Regions from separate parts of the Homo sapiens genome. Here region 2 is linked to region 1. Evidence: fine-mapped expression QTL. Tissue or cell type: whole blood. Region 1 holds a variant in brackets; the other region holds the start of a gene. All regions are shown on one strand. Distances are between the middles of the regions.

Region 1 (8,261 bases):
GGGAAAGGAACCAAGGTTTTGCCTAAGAGCACTATGCTGTCTGCAGAACAGAATTTTAATAAGAGCTTCCAAAAGTTATTTAACTGGAACCCTAAGATACTGAATGGTGGCTTCCACTCTCCCTGATCCTGTTCCCGTGGGAGACTCAACTATTGCTATTCCCATCCTGATTCAAAAAACCAGTTTGCTCTAGCTGCCCAGACTTCCCCACAGGCTGCATTCTTGCCCATGAGCTCATTGTTTTGGCTTCTTTGCCTGTATAAGTCTACTGCCAGTGCCAGAGGTCTCAGCCCGGGGCCCCCTAACTAGCTGGGGCTGCATTCCATTCAGAATTTCACCACCCCCACTTGGTGTTCTTCCCGCCCTCATGTGGTCACATGTGTATGTTTACTCAAGTTAGCCTGGGACAAGGTGTGCTGGGATAGAGAGCCAAAGAAGCAGAGAAGGAAAAGAATGTTTAACTGTTAGGTTTCATCCTGGATTAGATTTCAGTAAAAATGCTTTCAGTTCTGTGCCCTAAAAAATGTTAATTTTCTTGTCTGGTAGGAGGAGCTGGTTTTGAAAATTTTGCTATACATTTCATAGTCTACCCTACTGGGCTGGTTATGACTCTCAGGTATTCAGATTTGAAGGCGAGAATGCGGTTAATTCTCCCTGGGAAACACCGCATTCACATGCATTTTATTCCTGAAGCTCCTATGCCCAGATCTATCAGGCCTGCCTTTCTCAGCTCACAACGCCATCCTTTAGGTTGCCTGGAGCAGTTCCCACCGTCTCCGGCCCTTGGTGGAAATGGGGGGAGGGGAGACAGCTGGCCTGCTGCAAGGGAGCAGCTGTTCGGTTTCACTGCTTTGTTACTGAACTTTCCTGAGGGGAGGATACCTTGTTTATTTCCTTTTGCATGAGAGCCCAAATCTAAGGAAAGTGGGGCACACACCTCAGGTGAAGGGCTATGGGAAGAGCATTTCTCTTACTTTGCAGAGTTTTGGATTAATACTAGATGCTTAAGCGGTATACTCCTTTCCTCCACCCCCCTCTTCTTCATCTGTAAAAACAAAACCAAAAAACAAAACTGCAGGCTGCGGCTGTGGGAGGTGACTTTTTTTCATTTCTCAGAAATCCCTCATGAGGCAAAGCAGAGAAACAGAAAGAGGGAAACAACTTTGTGTCAAAATGAGGTTGTGTGTGTGTGTTTTGAAATGAGGTGGCTTGTTGTCAGCTTTAAGGAACAACAGCTCTGCAGAGGAGCCTGGTGATGGCGGGGAGGAGTGCTGGGCTACCTGCTTCCTTGCCCCTTGCCCCACTTCAAAGCTGGGTAGTTGGGGTCAGGTATGAAACAGGATGGAAGTCGCTGTATCTTCCTTTCCCCATCATGAACCATGAAAGATGTATCAGTGCTACTGTATGAAAGAAAAATTTGACCAGTCGCGGTGGCTCATGCCTGTAATCCCAGCACTTTGAGAGGCCAAGGCGGGTGGATCACCTGAGGTCAGGAGTTTGAGACCAGCCTGACCAACATGGCAAAACTCTCTCTACTAAAAATGGGGGTGGTGGTGTGCACCTGTGGTCCCAGCTACTTAGGAGGCTGAGGCATGAGAATTGCTTGAACCTGGGATGCAGAGGTTGCAGTGATCCTAGATCGTGCCACTGCACTCCAGCCTGGGCCAGTGAGACTATGTCTCAAAAAAAAACTTAGTAAATGCTTGTGGCTTACCATTATACATAAGCCTATGTTTGCAAGACAGTGTACCTTAAACAAAGACCAGGAATACTGTCATTTCCTGGACCCAGGAAAATTGGCCAGGCGCAGTTGCACGCGCTTGTAGTCCCAGATATTCTGGAGGCTAAGGCAGAAGAATCACTTGAGCCCTGGAGTTCAGGGCTATAGTGCGCTATGTTGATCTGGTGTTCATGCTAAGTTCCGCATCAATATGGTGACTTCTTGGGAGTGGGGGACCACCAGGTTGCCTAAGGAGGGGTGAACCTGCCTACGTTGGAAATAGAGCTGGTCAAAACTCCTGTGCTCATCAGTAGTAGAATTGCACCTGTGAATAGCCACCGCCCTCCAGCATGGGCAACATAGCAAGACCCTGCCTCTTAAGATAAAAATTGGAAAACACTGGTAGGAAAAAAAGGCTGTTTGGTCTAAATAAGTCTGGATTGGGTATAAATGACACAAAACTATCATGAATTTGAAAGCATTTCTAATTTCTTGAAAGTCTGAAAAAGTTTAAACAGAATTTTAGCTGAAAAGTCCTGAAAGACATTTGAAAAAAAACAGCAAGAACACTTAAAACTATTCAAGGTTTGGGCTGGGCACAGTGGCTCATGCCTGTAATCCCAGCACTTTGGGAGGCCAAGGCAGGCAGATCACTTGAGGCCAGGAGCTCAAGACCAGCCTGGCCAACATGGCGAAACCCCTTCTCTATTAAAAATACAAAAATTAGCCAGGCATGATGGTGCGTGCCTGTAGTCCCAGCTACTCAGGAGGCTGAGGCAGGAGAATCACTTGAAGCCAGGAGGTTGCAGTGATCCGAAATTGCACCACTGCACTCCAGCCTGGGTGACCAAGCGAGACTCTGTCTCAAAACAAAACAAAACAAAACAAAACAAAAAACTATTCAAGGTTTGGATCATTGAGGCCAAAATTATTTTGATAACAAGATGCCCCGTGTGAATGAAACTGAGTAATAGAAGGCTCATGGCCAGTAGTCGTAGCTACTAGGGAGACTGAGGCAGGAGGATCACTTGAGCCTAGGAAGTTGAGGCTGCAGTGAGCTGTGATTGTGCCACTGCATTTCAGCCTGATGACACAGCAAGACCCTGTCTCAAAAAAAAAAAAAAAAAAAAGAGAAAAGAAGGAAGCCAGGCACCCCATAGGCCCAGCTATTCAAGAAGCTGAGGCGGGAGGATTGCTTGAGCTTAGGAGTTCAAGTCTAGCCTAGGCAACATAGTGAGACCCTGTCTCTTAAAAATATACATATAATTTTTAAAAATTCTTTTATTTTTACATAAATGGAAACAGGGTCTCACTGTGTTGGCCAGGATGGTCTTCAACTCCTGGACTTAGGTGATCTCCCTGCCTTGGCCTCTCTTAAAGTGCTGGGATTACAGGCGTGAGCCACCGTGTCTAACCAAAAATAAATTTTTAAAAGTGTTTTTGGCCAGGCGTGGTGCCTGTAATGCCAACACTTCGGGAGGCCGAGGCGAGTGGATCACTTGAGGTCAGGAGTTCGAGACCACCCTGACCAACATGGTGAAACCCTGTCTCTATTAAAAATACAACATTAGCCAGGCGTGGTGACACATGCCTGTAGTCCCAGCTACTTGGGAGGCTGAGTGAGTAGAATTGCTTGAACCCGGGAGGCGGAGGTTGCAGTGAGCCGAGATCACACCATTGCACCCCAGCCTGGGCAACAAGAGCAAAACTCCATCTAAAAAAAAAAAAAAAAGTGAAGAAACTAGATCTGAAGCCTTAATTTTCTCCCCTATAAACAGGACTTAACGATACTGTCAGCTATCTTATTACCGCAAAGATTTAAAGAGAGACTATTGATACACGTGCTTTGTGCTTTTACCTTAAAGCACTACACAAATAGAAGGAGTTTCAGGACTGTCCCTTAAGGGTTTACTCTATTAACCATTTTCAAGTCCTTAAATTCCCTAGGAGAAGCAATTAAGAACCAGGCATCAGTAGAGTATGTTGAATTAAAAGGTTCTACAGCTGTATTTTGAGGCCTGGAAGAGACACAAACAGGACTTTCTATGGCTAGGCAGAGCAGAAGTCACCAGTTAGGAAAAATCCCCAGGGTCAGAAACCACCTCCCTGCCAAATTTGCCCTGCTGCCTGTTTTTGTATGGCCCACAAGCTAAGAATCATTTTGGTATTTTTAAATGGTTGAAAAAAATGGGCCGGGCA[C/G]AGTGGCTCATGCCTGTAATTCCAGCACTTTGGGAGGCTGAGGTGGGAGAACTGCTTGAGCCTAGTAGTTCAGGACCAGCCTGGGCAACACAGTGAGACCTTGTCTCTACAAAAAAAAATTTTTTAATTAGCTGGGTGTGGTGACCTGCACCTGTGGTCCCAGCTACTTGGGAGGCTGAGGCAGGAGGATGGCTAGAGCCCTGGAGGTCAAAACTGCAGTGAGCTATGATTGCGCCCCACCCCCGCACTCTACCCTGGGCAACAAAGCAAGATCCTGTCTCAAAAAAAAAAAAAGAAAAATTTAAAACTTTAGTGTCACAAGTCTGATTGGAACACAGCTACGCCCATTTGTTTACTTATTGTCTATGGCTGCTTTGTGCTGCTACAGTAGAGAAGCTGCAACAGAGATGATAGGTCCTGCAAAGCCTAACATATTTATCATCTACTCCTGTAGAGAAAAAGTTTGCCCAACCCTCTACTAAAGCTAAAGAGGAGTCTCATTTTGTGATGAAAGAGGCAGGCAACCAATAGTCAACAGTAAGGAGGAGAGGAATGTAGCGATGGGAGAGAGGAAGGGTGACCTTGTTCCAGGGGAGATGATCTCTGCCTGTCTCATCAAGGGGAGGGCCTTTTAGCCTAGGGATCCCAGGGGTACAGTCTGCTCCTTTTTTTATAATCCCACCCTCTTTCCCCCAGTTTCTTTTCCTCTTCACTCAAAGTTCAGTGGAGCTATCTCAAGAGATTCAGGTAAGGCTCAGAAGAGTACAGCACACAAACATGCCGACCCAACCTAGCCTTCCTCCCCCAGCACAGGGCTCTTCCCAGGCCTCTCAGCACAGCTCTCCAGTGCTCACAGGAGAAATGCTCTGCTCTGGCCAGCTTCCAGCCAACTCTGCACCTCCCCTTCAGCTGGCAGAGCTGATGGCTCCCTGGCATCTGACTGCCATATCTCGTGCATACCTTGTTTTGGACTAATCTTATACATTCCTCCCTCAAATCCTTTCTTCCTTCAGACTCAGCCCTGAAACACCCTCTTGAGTTTTCCCAGTCTCCTAGGTCAGGAAGCCCAAAAGTCAGATTCAGGGTTTATGCTGGCTACTTTGAGGTTAACCCAAACTTTTTCTGTCTCTTGTTGACAGACTTAGACTTAGGTACTTTCCTGAGGCTTTCTACTTCCTTTAGACGGTGTCTCTGCCCTTTAAAGCTGACAGCTCTTCATCACCTACCTGTGGCAAACCACCTCTACTTGAAACACACACCTCCCCAAACCATAATTTCTACGGTAGCATGATTCTCCATGGTTCAAAGAGAGGAGAGGGCTTCCTGGGTCAGTTTACTCTGGTGGGGAAGATGCTAACATGAAGTCTCTATTTGTAAACCTGGGGACAAGGGGAGAGCAAGGAATGAGAGAGGGTCTGGCTGGAGAGAATCTGGAGGGAGGCTCTCCTGGCATCTTGTTCTCTCTACACCCCACCACCCTCCATGTCCATCTAGAGTCTCCCACCAGAGCTCTTCTCTTACAGGTTTCCTGGGAGAAGGTGGCTTAAGGCTGAGACACTTATGCCCTGGGCCAGCCACTGGATTCCTGTGCTCTGCTTCACTCCTAGTTACCAGAAAGGTGGAATCTGGATGAGTGGAGGTGAGGAGAAGGTTCAAACTCTCCACCAGACCCATGCTGCAGCTGTGAGCACCTGCTTACAGGGAGGCCTGGGGGTTGGGGAAGTCCAGGAGCTAAATTTAGTCCAAAAGCTGCAACTTAAATTGGGTGGGTATTTACCCTGGGGAAGCTGGGAGGGGGAGGGGAGAGGAATCCTGACCCAGCTGAACTTGTGAGAGCACAGATCACCCCTAGTGTCACTGATACTCAAACCACAACCCCCTCCCCCAGCACACCCTCAGAAAGGAGGCATCCTCAACAATTTGCAGGCCTTTTGCATGCTTGATCTCTCTTGTGCATATCAAGTTTGTTCCTATCACCACCCCACCCTCATCTCAATTCTCAGGGGTCCAGTTCCTCTGAGTCCTTCCCTAAATTCCCACTAGTGCACCAAACCCAGGGGCCCTCCCCACATTCCTCTGCCCTCAGGCTGCAGCTTCTGCTCTCCCAAGTCCCCCCAGAGGGTTTCAGAGGTCAGCGAACAGGTGTCTGGCCACACTACTCCCCTCTACGGGGCCAAGAAAAGGGATTGCTTGGGGTCGGGTTCCCTTTCCTGAGAACTTCCGCATTGACCCCATAATGACCTCAGTGACCAGAGGAAGGAATCCTTAGGGGCTGCACTGAGTCCTAGCTCTAAAATAAGAGGGGAAAGGGAGCAGACCCCCAGAGGAGAGCCCACCTCCTGAGAGGTCAGAGGCTGGAGGCCGAGAGGGAGCTCATGGGCGGGCAGAAAGAGAAAGGGGGTGCTGAAGCCGGGGAGCCCTGCGAGGGGCTGCGACCGCACCTCCACCTGCGATTGGTTCTCAGGCTCAGGGCAAACGCCAAACCTGCCCAGCAACAGCCCTGAGCAGAGGGAGGGGAGCTTCGGGGAAGTCAGCTGAGCCGGCACCGCCCAGCTCTGGGCTTCCAGGAATCGCTGGGAGGGCCCCAGCCTCCACCCCACCCCTCCCTGGGTCTCAGGACTCTGCCTTCGGCCTTCTATACCTACTGGGCGGGCTCGGATCCCGTTTCCCTGGCCCCCCACATCTGTGATTCCCTGCTGAGGCCTCTTTAGGCTCAGCAGAGACGTTGGAACTGGGCTTTCCTTGTGGCCCCCTTTCCTCGCTCCCTGCCCTGGGCTGACGTCAGTTTTATCTTCCTTCTCCATTCCCTTTTGCCTCCTTCCCCACTCGCTCTCCTCTTAAGATGTCCAAATTCTTCCTTCTCAGCCACTTTCAACCCAGAGAAAGCCCGAGTCCCAAAGCAACAGGAAGATGTGCGGGGGACCGCGAGTGTGGGGACATCCTGCCGCCTCGGGCAACTCTGTCGTCCCCCACAGGGTTCAGGTGCTCAGAAAACAGCAGCCACTGAGTTCACTGTTTCCGCAGGCCCCGTATTCCCGGCCGTGCTCAGCTGGGCTTGTGGAGTCGCGAGCGGGGGCGCTCCTGCGGCACCGCCCCTCCTGGGCAGCCCGGCTTCCAGGAGAGACTCGGCCTCAGTCTCCGAATGGCAGGGGTCTGGGAGAGGATGTGATGGCAAAGGCCTGCCCCTCTCAGGCCGCCTCTAGCAAGTTCTCTACCTTGAGAGAAGCGAGTAGGAGGAGGAAGGAGGCCAGGCTGAGCCATCTCTGAGGAATGTGGCTTTGGCAGGACATCCAGTGCTGCCCCGCTCCTCCCTCAGCCCCGCCCAGGGCCCTGGAGCCGGGCCGGGCTCCTCCTCCTCCAGGGGAAGGGCTCGGGGCAGGAATCCCTTCCCTTTCCCCACCCCAGAAGAAGCCCCAGAGCGTAGGGATATGCGTACGGCAGAAAGGGAGACAGAAGGCAGGGCTAGAGAAAGGGAACAGGAAAAAAGAGCTTCGACAAGCCAACTGCCCTTCGCTCAGGCCCCAGCGGAAAGGCGCAGATACCCGGAGACTTCCCAGAGAGACTCGACCCACCAAAAAGCGCACCGCGGCCGCGCAGCCCTTCCTTCAGCTCTGGAACCCAGCGCCCCACACCTCAAATGGGAGAACTGGTGACCTCTAGTGGCCCATGACCAGCCTGCAGGGCCTGGGGCTGGCGGGGATTCTCTGACCCAAACTCTCCTGGGCTCTAATGCTGTTCCCCTGCCCACCCTACCTTCTGCCTTCACACTGCTGAGGGGTCCATAGCCGACAAGGAAGAGCTCATTTCTCATTTGTCATGACCATCTTTAATAAAAAATAAATTAGTTCTGGGTGGGAACCATTTCAGGAGGCAGGGAGTGGGGCTAGGGGCTGGGCGGGGTGGTGGGGGAGCGGATGCTCACATTTCTCTTTTTCACCCTCTGCCCAGCTGGGCCTTGCTCTGGAGAGGCAGTCTCTTTCCTCCTGCCTTCCTGAGTAAGGCAGGATTGGCAGTGGCTGACCCCAGCCCTAGCTAATTAGGGAGGCAGGGGCAGAGATACTAGGCAAATGAGAAGGGGTCAGAGACACAGGGCGGCTTAGAAGATGTGAGGTCTGAACATGAGAAATGAGGCTTAGGGCACAAAACTGGAGTTGGTGGGGAGACCACACTCTAAGTAGCTCAGATTAGCAAGGAACTGCAGACTTGCTTTCCTTTCCACCTAGGAAAGTCTCAAGGAAACAGGTCTTGTCCTTCTCAGTCTGTGTAACCTCTTTTTGAAAAGTGATACACGTTTGAGCACACACATATCCATGCAGTCCCAAAAGCACACCTGAGGCATATG
Region 2 (8,000 bases), 240 kb before region 1:
GGTATTTTCCACTTAGTATTGCAGCCAAAGAATATTTAAATAAACGTCTTTGCTGCGCTTGCATCCATGCCCAGCCAATATACAACTGTAAAGCAAATATAGAAAGTCGGCTGTTGATACGATTGTCTGTTATCGAACACATTCAGTGATAAAGCTGGGTTACTGCTGCTTTTGGTGCTCTCACCTTATCTGGAAGATCTGCAAACATTACCTAAATAGGCTGGCAAGATAAACACTTTCTGGAACCCGAGACTTGGCCATAAAGATAATGCTGCATTTTTCTGTCAGAATCACATATGATGTGTGTTCTGTAGAGGTTATTTCTGCATGGAAACTCAACTTCTTGGATTAGCCGTCCCAGTGAAAATCCTCATTGTTGGAGTGTAAACCAAATACGAAGCCCTCTTGCAAAGTAGCCTCTTTCATCCCATACTCAAAATACCCAGTTTAGCAAGCAACTGAGATTTAAGTCTCTCTGGCCCTAAGAGGTTTTTCCTCTTTGCTCCCTCCAATCTTGAGATTGGGTTTTGCTTTAGAGTGCAAGTATCATAATTCCGTATGATAGATGGGGCCTGGACACCCATCTCAACAGGGTCACTTGGTAATTAACAATAGCCATATAAATGCGGATACAGGTTACTACCCTCACCCTTTACCTTCCTCAGGTAACAGTCGTAGATACCAGCTTTTTTTTTTTTTTTTTTAAATTGGCTTTGGCCAGTAGCTAAAGTGCAAGACTGAATTAATGAGAAGATATATTAAATGTAGTCATAGGGGACTGAGGAGCAAGGGTGGCCTTGAAGAGGCCAAAGGAATGTCCATTTGCTGAGTTTCCCTTCCTTATGTCTCCAGTCTGGTGCCAGGTAGTGGAGTAAAAAAGGAGACAGTTTATTTTTTTATTCTATGTGCACACTTACAGTATACATATATATTTATATCACAATTTACGAAACCAAAAAGTTGAGTTTCCAATGGAACCCTTGTTTTTTAATAATCGACTTTTTAAATGTGATCAGGACTATAATATTGTACAGTTATTATAGGGCTTTTGGGGAAGGGGAGGATAGCGAGAAGATGCTCTGGGGGTTTTGTTTTTGCTTTTCCTTCAGGGTTTTATTTTTGACTGTTTTGTTTTCTTGTTGGCCATTTCTGTATTGCTGGCATCTGTGCTAAGCTTTACAGTGGCAAAAATAATGACATGTAGCAAAGATTTTCAAACAAAATATTTTTTCCTTTTGTAAAATTTCTTGTGTTGTGTGATCTTGATTGCGGCTTTATCATTCCTTTCCAGTTCATAAACAACAGGCACCCACAACCAGAGGAATCTATAGTTTAAGCTCCAGACATACAAACATAAGGCACATTGTGTCTTTAATTTCAGGAATCAGAAATCATAGGGTTCTGATCACATTGCACGCCTCCCCCCTCACTTGTCCTCCTGATCCTGACACATTCTGAGTAACATCAGCAGGAATGCTCTGACCATGAGGTGGGGGTTTTGGGGTGGGCGTTGCCTGGGTTCTTGGGAGAGAGGGGAAGAGTCGGGACTTGAAAACCACTAGGGCACATCTGGATGCCTTCCCCCAGTATGTCCTTTTCTGGATTAAAATGAGTGAAATTTAAACTGTTCAAGTCTGGACCTGGTTTCCCTCTAGGAGACTATGTTGGTTCATTAGCAACTTTTTTTTTTTTTTTTTTTTTTGTGTGTGTGTGTGTGTGTGTGTGTGAGAGATGGAGTCTCGCTCTGTTACCCAGGCTGGAGTGCAGTGGCACGATCTTGGCTCACTGCAACCTCTGCCCCTTGGGTTCAAGCAATTCTCCTGCCTCAGCTTCCCAAGTAGCTGGCACTACAGGTGTGTGCCACCATGCCCAGCTAATTTTTGTGTTTTTTTTTTTTAGTAGAGATGGGGTTTCACTATATGTTGGCCAGGCTAGTCTCGAACTCCTGACCTTAGGTGATCCACATGCTTTGGCCTCCCAAAGGCCTGGGATTACAGGCGTGAACCACTGCGCCTAGCCTGTTAGCAGCTCTTAAAATCCAGAGGCATAAGCCTGTATTTTTGAGGGTTTATGCATGGAATCCAGCTAGAAACTGAGTCTATTACAGATCCCATTTATTATCCTTTCTATTCCAAGAAGCCTTTTTTTCTCCTTCCCCACATCTGTTTATGGAAGAAAATGAAGTTTGGGGTGTGGTTTGAGGAATCAGCTAGATTCTTATGATCTGTCACATGCTTGGATGTTGGGGAAGCATTTGGAGAAGCTCATGTGACTTGTCCTAGATTGGGGATTTTAATTGAGACAGATGATGTTTATCGGGCATCCCACCACCTGAGAGTTTTAGCAACAGAGTCACATGTGAGTCCATCAGAACTTACGGCATTGATTCAAGTGCTGTCATAAATAACCAGGACTGCTGTTTTTGGTTACTTTTAAAGACAGTTTCATCTGGACTTTCTGGGCATATCCTCCTTCAGCAAAACCACATTAGGCTGGGAAAACTATTCTGCCTGGAAGTAATGACAACTTGCAACCAACAAGCTTATAAAAATACAAAGAATTCTGGAGCCTATGGCTTCCATTACATTATTCTTTTATAGCCTTTTATGTTCATTACCGCATCCCAGAGGTGAGAGTCAGACACAAATATGAAAATAGGTTTCAATGTTGGAGAGGTAAATCCTAACAGGAAAGGGGTAGGAAAAGATATAATCCCCCAATATTAAAATAAAGATATTGAAGAAGAAGGATGGGAGAGACTAGGGCTGTGTCCTTCCTTTTACTCACCAAAAGAGAAAGTAAGCTCCTATTTGAGTCAATAGATATTGAGGTCTTGTTATTTGCCACCAAAGACAGTCTTGTGAGACTAAATAGCTAGTAATTCCCTACCCTGGCACACATGCTGCATACACACAGAAACACTGCAAATCCACTGCCTCCTTCCCTCCTCCCTACCCTTCCTTCTCTCAGCATTTCTATCCCCGCCTCCTCCTCTTACCCAAATTTTCCAGCCGATCACTGGAGCTGACTTCCGCAATCCCGATGGAATAAATCTAGCACCCCTGATGGTGTGCCCACACTTTGCTGCCGAAACGAAGCCAGACAACAGATTTCCATCAGCAGGTAACGTTTGCAACTTCCTAGATCTTTTAGCTTTTCATTCCTGTCAATTCTCTGAGTATTAGGGATGTAGTGACTTGAGGATCACAATAAACTTTTAGCCTCTGCAGATGAAAACAGAGATGCACTTCTTAGGTCATTCCCTGGCTAAATAAAATCTGCCTGGAAATCTGTAGAATTCCTTGTATGATTTATATATATACATACATGATTGTTAGTAAAAGCAAAGTATATAGGGAATCATTTCCCCATCCTTCAAGAGTGGCCTTTCTGCAGTGTTTTCTACTTTGGCCAACAAGGATCAAAACGGTTAACTCCTTAGTGAGGAGGAGGAGAGTGGTATGGGGAGGTAGTAGCTCAGTGCTTCCTGTTCACTGAGACATCTCAAAGCCCTTAACACTCTAGTTTTTAAATGTCCTACTGGACATTTTGCCAGTTTGCAAAATTACATGTAAATGGACTATAAGCAATTGTGTAAGCCATATGTCATGCTGCAGGCTGCAAATTGTTCTTAAAATGGAGGATTTGTAATTAAGAAAGCCAATGCAAGAAATGAGTGAAGCTAACTAGAGTAAACTTATGAAAAGCTGTGAATTTCATCATCATAGAACATTGCTTTTCAGTCTGAACATTCTTCTAACAAACCTTGGATCTGAGGCTTCTTGTCCTTTGCGGCAGCCACAGTGGGTTTTTGTTGTTAGGGGAAAAATAAAAAACCTTGCCCGCAGCATCTGGTTAAGATTAGGGCAGTTTCCTGCCTAAGGAGGGAAGGGAGAGAAAAAGGAAGAAGAAATGCATAAGGAGAATGAGGAGATATACAATGTCTCAGAAAACAGGAAACATTGTCCTATTTTCCCTTGTCCTCTTCTGACAAGATCTGGGAAAGTACCAGAATTTAGGCACGAAAGAGAAGAACGCCTCGAAGAAATGATCAGGAGGCAAAACTTAGACGGAAATCTCTCCTTTGTGTATTCTGAACCCCACTACCACCTTGCTATTTGTCTGTCTCCAAGCCTGCTAGGGACCCTGGAGGAAACGCACTGAGCCCATTCTGATTGTCCAGTTTCTATCCCCCATTTCTGGTTGTGTACGTGTGTGTGTGTGTGTGTGTGTGTGTGTGTGTGTGTGTGTGTGTGAGAGAGAGAGAGACAGAGAGAGAAACAGAGAGAGTGTGTGTTGCCTAAATCTCCCGAGAGAGAGAGAGAGAGAGAAAGAGAGAAATGGCTAAATCCCCCTAGATCAAAGTCCTTGGAACCAGATGTACCAGCATCCTATCTAAACACAGGCCCCTCCTGACTATCATTGTTTTATCACCCTTTTTCCGTCTACCTTTCTCTTCCTCATAAAGCCTAGTTTTCCTCTGTTTCCCTGCCAAATGGAAGAGTTTTCCCTAACTACATTCTTCTGCAGGATGTGGGGGCTCAAGGTTCTGCTGCTACCTGTGGTGAGCTTTGCTCTGTACCCTGAGGAGATACTGGACACCCACTGGGAGCTATGGAAGAAGACCCACAGGAAGCAATATAACAACAAGGTGCCTGGGGTCCTGGAGGGGGCATGGCAGGAAGGCTGAGACCTGAGCTCTCTCATCTTAGCTTCCAGACTCCCTTCTTCAATCCAAATGCTTTATTCCAAGCAAATCAGTCCCTCTTCCCTAACTCATGTTAACATACGGTTTTCATTCCTATGCTTCAAATCATCCTCTGTCAAACTGTATCCTTCCTTTGCTTTATAAGTGTGTTACATTTCTCTTTTGGGAAGAGTTCTAAGATTAATGCTGTTAATCTATAAGCAATTTTTCTGTCTCTCCAGAGCTTTGTGTTGTATTTGTTTACATATTATCTCTTCTTGCAGGCTCTTAATTCCATGGTTAGTTCCCCAACTAAACTGTAAACTTTTATGATTGTGAGTTTCCTTTATTCTCCTAAAACCCTTCACAATATTACATATGTAACTGTAGACAGTCTATACAAGTACTGACTATGCTTTGTTTAGGTGGATGAAATCTCTCGGCGTTTAATTTGGGAAAAAAACCTGAAGTATATTTCCATCCATAACCTTGAGGCTTCTCTTGGTGTCCATACATATGAACTGGCTATGAACCACCTGGGGGACATGGCAAGTATAGCTTCAGCTCCTGTCCCACCTGCACCATTTGCTTTAGTTCCCTGCTGATGCCTGGCCTCTTTCTTCTTTGTCTTAGACCAGTGAAGAGGTGGTTCAGAAGATGACTGGACTCAAAGTACCCCTGTCTCATTCCCGCAGTAATGACACCCTTTATATCCCAGAATGGGAAGGTAGAGCCCCAGACTCTGTCGACTATCGAAAGAAAGGATATGTTACTCCTGTCAAAAATCAGGTACTCTCCTTTCTTCTGGGTGTGCATATGTAATCTGGCATGACCTTTTCCTTTTTCTGCTGCTTTGTTCTTGAGGTGAAAGGGCACCAGGAAAAGAGGGCAAGGAATTAAGGTACATCTCCCCATTCCCATTCTGTTATTTAACCTCATTTGTTTCTGTACATTTGGGTTGTTTCTGGTTTTTCTTTTTCTTTTCCTTTTTTTTTTTTTTTTTTTTTTTTTGAGATAGAGTCTCACTCTGTCGCCCAGGATGGAGTGCAGTGGTGCAATCTTGGCTCACTGCAACCTACACCTCCCGGGTTCAAGCGATTCTCCTGCCTCAGCCTCCTGAGTAGCTGAGATTACAGGCACGCGCCACTACGCCTGGCTAATTTTTCTATTTTTATAGAGATGCGTTTTCACCATGTTGGCCAGGCTGGTCTTGAACTGACCTCAGGTGATCCACCTGCCTCAGCCTCCCAAAGTGCTGGGATTAGAGTCATGAGCCATCGCGGCCTGGTTTTTCTTTATTACAAATAGTGTTGCAATAAGCACCCTTGTGCATATGTTTTTGTGCACATGTACAAATATTTATGCAAAATAAGTCCTAAAATTGGAATTGTTAGGTCACAAATAATCCTTTCCCCCCCCCCAAATTTTTTTTTTTTTTTTGAGACAGCGTCTCTGTCACCCAGGCTGGAGTCCAGTGGCGCAATCATGGCTCACTGCAGCCTCAACGTCTCAGGCTCAAGTGATTCTCCAACCTCAGCCTCCCTAGTAGCTGGGATTAGAAGCACATGCCACCACACCCAGCTAATTTTAAAAAATTTTTTGTAGAGACAGAGTTTTGCCATGCTACCCAGGCTGGTCTCAAATTCCTGGGCTCAAGCAATCTGCCCGCTTCGGCCTCCCAAAGTGCTAGGATTACAGACATGAGCCACCATGCCCAGCCCAAAAAAGTTTTTGCAATCTTACATTCTTACTAGCATGAGAATGTCAGTTTTTTCACAACCCAAACAACACAGGATTGTATCAGCAAGATAAACAATTGATTTAACGTTCATTTAACAAACACTTTTTGACCCCCAGAACCTACCAGATGCAGTGTTAGGCAGCAGAGACTCAAGATGACTAAGACACAACCTGTGTCCTCAGGAAATCTCAATCTAAAAAAATAGAACAGGAAAGAAAGAAAAATCTACAATCTAGCTGCACAAACAATAATAGCTAATACTTTTTGAGATTTTATTGTTTGTCAGGAACTTCTTAACTCTTTACATGAGTTAAATATTTAATCCTTATAACAATATTTTATGCATAGAGAAACTGAGACACAGGCAAATTTAGTAACTTACCCGGGGTCACATAGCTACTGGGTGGCAAAGTCAGGGTTAGCACCCAGGACAAATGCCTCCACAGCTGGTACTGTGCTCTGCTTTACTGTAGCTAATAGTAAAAATGGTAGCAAAAATCAATAGCAGTAGAACAGTGCAACAGATATTAAGCGGAAGAGGAAGACTCACAACAATGACAACATTTGTGCTGAAATTTTTAGAACACATGGAATTTCTTCAGGCAGGTAGAGAGAAGATATAGAAAATGTAAACAGCAAAGATTGATAGTTTCTCTGTATGCCTTTCAGGGTCAGTGTGGTTCCTGTTGGGCTTTTAGCTCTGTGGGTGCCCTGGAGGGCCAACTCAAGAAGAAAACTGGCAAACTCTTAAATCTGAGTCCCCAGAACCTAGTGGATTGTGTGTCTGAGAATGATGGCTGTGGAGGGGGCTACATGACCAATGCCTTCCAATATGTGCAGAAGAACCGGGGTATTGACTCTGAAGATGCCTACCCATATGTGGGACAGGTGAGATTGCTCCACACAATTATACAGCTCTGTTGGCTCCTCCTTCCCCAGCATGATGTTTTGTACTGGAAACAATTCCAGAAATACTGTTTTCTGTTATCCTATCCTGCTTTCTTGATGGAATAATTTCCCACAGAAGGCCAAGAAGATTTCCACAATCTGGGGGAATTTAGGGAGCTTAAGCTACTATAGCTCCTATTTGCATCTCTGCCATGGAGAGAAAACAGAGGCTAGGCTACCTACCCCATAGACTTCCGAGCTGGGTTCTATAACCCTCTGCTCAATTCCTCACTCCCACAACAAACCCACAAACCCACCATGCTATTTTCACAAATTGTGTGGCTTTATTTTATATGATCTCAGTGTGAGTTTTCAGAACATTTCAGCAAATTATGTAAGTTTACATGCTAACATCTATAAAATGAGAGAAAAAACAAGTTGCTTCATATAAGAGATAAGGGATTAACTCAGTTCCTCCTGCATGATCCTCTAGTCATAGGAAGGAAATCATATCTGAAAGGGAGGCAACCTGAGGGGTTTTTTATACACATAGGGCTGGGTCTGATAGACAATATAATGTAGGGCCTTCACAACAGAAACCTCTGAAACAGGGACAGCAAGTTTGAGAATAAAAATGATGGCTACTGTGTTCTAAGCCGTGTCCTTAGTGCATTTTTTCTTTTT

The links. PIP is the estimated chance that this variant, and not a neighbour inherited with it, causes the effect.
Region 2: it holds the start of CTSK, and the variant in region 1 is fine-mapped to the expression of CTSK in whole blood (INTERVAL, PIP 0.96).

Annotation. Positions count from the first base shown.
Region 1 is chr1:150,560,399-150,568,659 of GRCh38, reverse strand. It overlaps ADAMTSL4 (ADAMTS like 4), which reads right to left. Exons shown (of 19, transcript NM_019032.6): 19 at 7,727-8,261. It overlaps ADAMTSL4-AS1 (ADAMTSL4 antisense RNA 1), which reads left to right. Exons shown (of 4, transcript NR_104133.1): 3 at 5,443-5,558; 4 at 7,438-7,765. It also overlaps the pseudogene RN7SL473P. Among named protein-coding and RNA genes, the nearest start is that of ADAMTSL4-AS2, 6.8 kb to the right of the region's middle. RefSeq lists enhancers at 140-851, 953-1,342, 852-1,562, 5,214-5,263, 5,534-5,813 and 4 more. The variant C/G (reference allele first, on the strand shown) is at 3,920.
Region 2 is chr1:150,803,337-150,811,336 of GRCh38, reverse strand. It overlaps CTSK (cathepsin K), which reads left to right and starts at 3,077. Exons shown (of 8, transcript NM_000396.4): 1 at 3,077-3,123; 2 at 4,531-4,651; 3 at 5,113-5,235; 4 at 5,321-5,476; 5 at 7,098-7,316. The coding sequence starts at 4,532. It overlaps ARNT (aryl hydrocarbon receptor nuclear translocator), which reads left to right. Exons shown (of 22, transcript NM_001668.4): 22 at 1-1,624.